Regions from separate parts of the Homo sapiens genome. Here region 1 is linked to region 2. Evidence: fine-mapped expression QTL. A gene starts in region 2. The other region holds a variant in brackets. All regions are shown on one strand. Distances are from middle to middle.

Evidence for each region.
Region 1: its variant is fine-mapped to the expression of STARD3NL in whole blood (TOPMed, PIP above 0.99).

What each region holds. Positions count from the first base shown.
Region 1 is chr7:38,228,471-38,231,388 of GRCh38, forward strand. STARD3NL (STARD3 N-terminal like) reads left to right here. Exons shown (of 9, transcript NM_032016.4): 8 at 329-401; 9 at 1,453-2,199. The coding sequence ends at 384. Among named protein-coding and RNA genes, the nearest start is that of TARP, 44 kb to the right of the region's middle. The variant CA/C (reference allele first, on the strand shown) is at 1,561.
Region 2 is chr7:38,176,982-38,179,902 of GRCh38, forward strand. It overlaps STARD3NL (STARD3 N-terminal like), which reads left to right and starts at 1,264. Exons shown (of 9, transcript NM_032016.4): 1 at 1,264-1,439. RefSeq lists an enhancer at 911-990 and a silencer at 1,241-1,520.

The DNA of each region.
Region 1 (2,918 bases), 51 kb after region 2:
TAAAAAAATATATGCAAGCTTGTCAGCAAAGAGGCAGAGGAAGAATAGTGATTGATAATAGTTATTGGTCTGCATGAATATTCTTAGTACATAAGTGAAATCCATTTTGACAGATTAGTGTAAGTGATAGATTATTGTTTAAAGGTTTTCCTGTTACAAGAAATAAATAAAGCTTTCAAATAGCAGTTAACCTAAATCTCTTGAGGATTAAACATATGTTTAATGTTTTTATGTGTATATGTTATAATTTTAAACCTATTTATTTAAAATAGTTTGTTACTGTAATGGAATGAAATACTTTTTCTTTGTCCCCTTCTCCACCACGTAGGATCTGAAGAAGCTGAAGAAAAACAGGACAGTGAGAAACCACTTTTAGAACTATGAGTACTACTTTTGTTAAAGTAAGTGTTTGAAATGAAACCATAACAACAAAGTAGTTAAGTATGGAGATTTCCTTTGAGTAGAGTCAAAGTAGAATTCAAAGAATAAGAGTGTAAGGATAGCCAGAGTTATCTTACTTGCATGAATTTATCAGTCACATTTTATTAATGCCAAGTGTCTTAACATTTTTTATACAGGTATACATTTATAAGGTTTTGAAAATACCTCAGATTTCTAAATTTCTAAAGAATAGAGATGAATTTATGTTAATTTACTTAGCCAGAATGTCTACATGCCAGTCACATGTCATTGTTTTAATGACAGGTACTAATCTATGTTAAGAGGACAGCAGTCCTGTGAGATGCAGGTGCTGTTATCACCTCCATTTTACATTTGAAGCAGCAGAGACATAGAATGGGTCACTTATCCAAGGTTGCACAGCTAGACGAGGCAGCGCTGGGGCTCAGGCCCACACTTTCTGGTACCAGGTCCACTGCAGCCCCTCACTGGGACATTTCTCAAGGATTTTGGAGCCTCTGAGATGAAAGCTGCTGTACATCCAAAGCAGTCATGCTTAATGGGCTCCAAAGTGGAACACATTGTTAAATCCCTTTAAGTCATCAAAGAAAATCATTTTAACCTCATAAATAGAAGGCAATTGAAGTAAATTGTAGTAGCAGCAAATCTGCCTGACAGTTTAACCACAGAAGGAAAAAGCTGCCAGATTGTGAGTCATTGGGAAGCTGGGATAGAAGCTGACTGGGTGGGAGAGGTAGCCAAGGTCACGGCGCATGGAGCCCCAGTGCCTGCCTCCTCAGCCCCCAGCACACCTCAGCCGCATCTCTCCACCACAGTCATGTAGACGCGAAGCAAAAATGTGGGCATGCTCGTAGTTGAGCCTTTTCTAAAATGTTTTAACATGAATTCTAATGTGACCACACGCATGGTCCTTCGTGTGTCTGTCACAGCCCCTCTTCAGCACACAGACTTTTATGTACATGTAAGGTGACCGTGGCATTTTGCCTTTTAATGCTATTTATTAAATACTTTTGTCTTCTCTCTTTTTCTAAGTGTGAAAAACCCTCACAGAAAGTCATCGAGGCAAAAAGAGGCAGGCAGTGGAGTCTCCCTGTCGACAGTAAAGTTGAAATGGTGACGTCCACTGCTGGCTTTATTGAA[CA/C]GCTAATAAAGATTTATTTATTGTAATACCTCACAGACGTTGTACCATATCCATGCACATTTAGTTGCCTGCCTGTGGCTGGTAAGGTAATGTCATGATTCATCCTCTCTTCAGTGAGACTGAGCCTGATGTGTTAACAAATAGGTGAAGAAAGTCTTGTGCTGTATTCCTAATCAAAAGACTTAATATATTGAAGTAACACTTTTTTAGTAAGCAAGATACCTTTTTATTTCAATTCACAGAATGGAATTTTTTTGTTTCATGTCTCAGATTTATTTTGTATTTCTTTTTTAACACTCTACATTTCCCTTGTTTTTTAACTCATGCACATGTGCTCTTTGTACAGTTTTAAAAAGTGTAATAAAATCTGACATGTCAATGTGGCTAGTTTTATTTTTCTTGTTTTGCATTATGTGTATGGCCTGAAGTGTTGGACTTGCAAAAGGGGAAGAAAGGAATTGCGAATACATGTAAAATGTCACCAGACATTTGTATTATTTTTATCATGAAATCATGTTTTTCTCTGATTGTTCTGAAATGTTCTAAATACTCTTATTTTGAATGCACAAAATGACTTAAACCATTCATATCATGTTTCCTTTGCGTTCAGCCAATTTCAATTAAAATGAACTAAATTATACTGTGTGCTGTTTTTTCAAACATGAATATTCCCCTTGACTCAAGGGAAGTCAGGATGTCTGTTAGTTTTCTTTCATCATTCATTGTGTCATTGAAGAAAAACCTAATTGCCTGTAGTGGTGATGATGCTGGCTTGGGTAGAAACTGACCTTTTGTGCATATCAAGTCACTTCTGAAGGGGTGGCCTGCCCCTCCACACCTGTGGGTATTTCTAGTCGGGTGGGGCGAGAGACTGAGAAAAGAAATAAGACGCAGAGACAAAGTATAGAGAAACAATAGTGGGCCCAGGGGACCGGTGCTCAGCACACCAAGGACCTGCACCGGCACCGGCCTCTGAGTGTCTTCAGTTTTTGTTCATTATTATTTTCATTATTTCAGCAAAAAGGAATGTAGTAGGAGAGCAGGGTGATAATAAGGAGAAGGTCAACAAAAAACGTGAGCAAAAGAATCTATATCATAATTAAGTTCGAGGGAAAGTACTATGCCTGGACGTGCACGTAGGCCAGATTTATGTTTCTCTCCACCCAAACATCTCAGTGGAGTAAAGAATAACAAGGCAGTATTATTGCAAACATGTCTCACCTCCTGCCACAGGGCAGCTTTTCTCCTATCTCAGACTTGAACAAATGTACAATCGGGTTTTATACCGAGACATTCAGTTCCCAGGGGCAAGCAGGAGACAGTGGCCTTCCTCCACGTCAACTGCAAGAGGCTTTCC
Region 2 (2,921 bases):
GGGAAAAATTGCTCAAATACTAGCAGTGGGAATGTAAGTTAAAACAACTACTCAGGGGAGCAAATCAGTGAAATCTATTAAGGATTTACATCGTGCAAACTCTGTGATCCAGTACATTCTCTTGTTGGTATCTGCACTCTAGAGAAATACTTGGACCTAAGTACAAAAAGGCATCTACATATATATTTATGGTACCATTGCTTCTCATAATAATATTAATAAACAAACGTGAGGGTGGGGGAATGGTACATTAATTATGTATGTATATATATACACATATTGGTTCTGAGGACATGCAGCATTTTCAGAGAATGAGGTAGATTTATATACAGATATGGAAAGATTTCAATGCTAAGTGTAAAAAAGTAACATCTACACTTGCAAATGCACAGGAACTAGGAGTCATCATCTACAGACTGGGTTTGTAATTAGGGCCTAAAAGGGATATAAGCATAATTGTAACGTTTAAGCTTTTTTTTTTTTTCGCATGGACAAAATCTTACTTGTGTAATTTAAAATTAATAACGGTACTTAGAATGACTTTGGAAAAATATACAAATAATGAAATGGGGATCCAAAGAATGTTCACTGTATACCTCTGTACTTCTAAAAATGTGAATAAGTGTAGCATCCGTTGGGAGAAAAGTTTAATTAAATTTTAAATAAAACAATAAAAGGTGCCTAACTTCGTGTGAAAACAGACATATAGATATAATTAAATGTGACTACCGCTTAGAGATGTTAGTTATGAACTAGGAGCGCTGAGAAAAGGTATCCTAAATAGGTCTGGGGGAAGTGAGAGTTAGAAGAGGTGACTCTTGAGCTGAGTACCGACATAGAAATGGTATGCCCTGTTTTTATTCCTGGAGGGCTCAGCATGAGGTGCCCAAGAGGCCCTGAAACCCATTTCCATGACATTTTCCCACGAGCTGGAGCATAAACCCCCACCGAATAACTGAAGGGAAGCGGAAGGCGCAGAAACGCGGACGAAGAGGAAGCGGGCGCTTGTTAAACCGTGCGATGCACAATGCGGGAAAGTCCAACCAGCTCCGTGTTTCAAAGCTGGATGCCCAGATTTCCCACCCATTCCTACAGGCAGACCGGCTCGCCCTCTCCCTCCTTCCCGCGTCGTTTACTGGTCAGTAGAAGATTGACATGTCATCTGGCCAATAGGTTGGCTCCTCTATGGAGGCACTCAGGAACCAGTCGGGTCTTTGGTCCCTCGAGCGAGATGCGAGCTGTGTGCGTCGACGTCAGCGTGCTGACGTCACGGGCCGGAGGTCCCGGGGCTGCTGGGTGCGGGCGGTGGGCTGCGCGTTGTCCGCTGGACTGGGTCCCGGTCACGCCCCGCCAAGCCCCGCCCCTCAGGCCGGGGCGCGACCGCGGATCCGCAGTTCCCGGGCCAGCCTGGGGCGGCCGGCCAGGAACCACCCGTTAAGGTAGGCTGGGTTTCTCGTTCCCCTATTTGACAGGTTGGAAAACTGAGTCTCCTGGGTCAGATGACTTACATGGGGGCGTACAGGGGACCCGCGGACGGAGGCCATATCCTGGTCCTGTTCTGTTTCCTGAGTCCTGCGCGAGCCTCCAGGGGAGGAGGAGGGGCGAGGCAGGCTGTGCTCATAATGGACACAAGAGTGAAGTTGCAGAATGCTGAGCCCCGCTGCTCCCACGGCGTGGGCCGGGATTCAGGGATGGATATAGGTAGCGGGAGTGTCCTCATTCCTCCAGCCTGCGGACCCTGAGGAGTCCCCGGTGGGGTCGGCCCCGGGCTGGCGCCATGGGCCCCCAAGAAGGACCAAGAATTGGTGACTGGGTGTAATGCGTGGGTTGTCCAGACACAGGCGGTTGTGAGTCTCTTCTATTCATTGAGAAAAGTCGTGTTCAAAAAAAAAAAAAAGAAAGAAAGCACGAATCATGAATGTTCTCCCTGTGGTTTCAGTTAACTGCTTCACCTACTCGTAGATATCTCGCCATTGTTTGAAATCTTAGTTGCTTGAATACTTTTGATTTAGGGTTAGGGATTTTTCCCCCTCTCTTTTAGTTCAAACATGGGTGGACATTGTGGAACTTTTCTTTGTTCACTGTGTCATTTGTCTTCTATTTCACAGATGGAATCACTGAATTCATCACTTGACACAGTACTAGTTTGGATAAGTTTAGCAAGGTAACCAAGTAACGGGTCTAATTAAATCTTTACTGGAATTAGTCCAGTTTGCCACATTTCCTTGTTAGGAAGAATTCTGAAAGGTAATTCCCGTCTGTATACCATATCTACCCATACGCCTCTTTCTAGAAGCAGGATCTCACAAAACGACTTATGGTATCCTTGTTTTATTGATGGATTCTGATAAGGTGGTGGATTATTCATGTTCATAAAATGAAAACATACAATATGTTGTCGTGTAGAAGTCACTGTCTTTAAAATCTAACTGTCTCAAACATTGGTCTTTTAAAACTGCATTATTGCATTGCCTAAAACTGCATGAAAGAAATGAAATGAAACAGCCTCTGAGGGATATTACCTTACTTATGTTCACAGAAGGATGGTGATTAACATCATTTGGATTTATTCAATGGACAGTTTGCCTGAGTGATTGTCTATGCCACTCATTGTTTTAGGTTTTAGAGATTGAGTAGTGAGCAATTTAGATAAGGCCCATACCCTCAAAGACTTTAACTTTTGTTGGAGAATATAATAAACATGTAAATCAAAGAGACAAGTTTAGATAGGAATAAATGTCAGAAAAGATACTACTGGGTAGAGAGTTTGAGAGTGACTGGGTTGTATGGAGAAATGGGATGGTCAGGGAAGACCTCCCTAAGGAGGTAACACGAGGTGACATTTTGGGTGATAGCTGAATGTTTAGCTGAGTCAGCCATGAGAAAATGGGCTGGAAGTTTCTAGGCAGATATAAACAGTG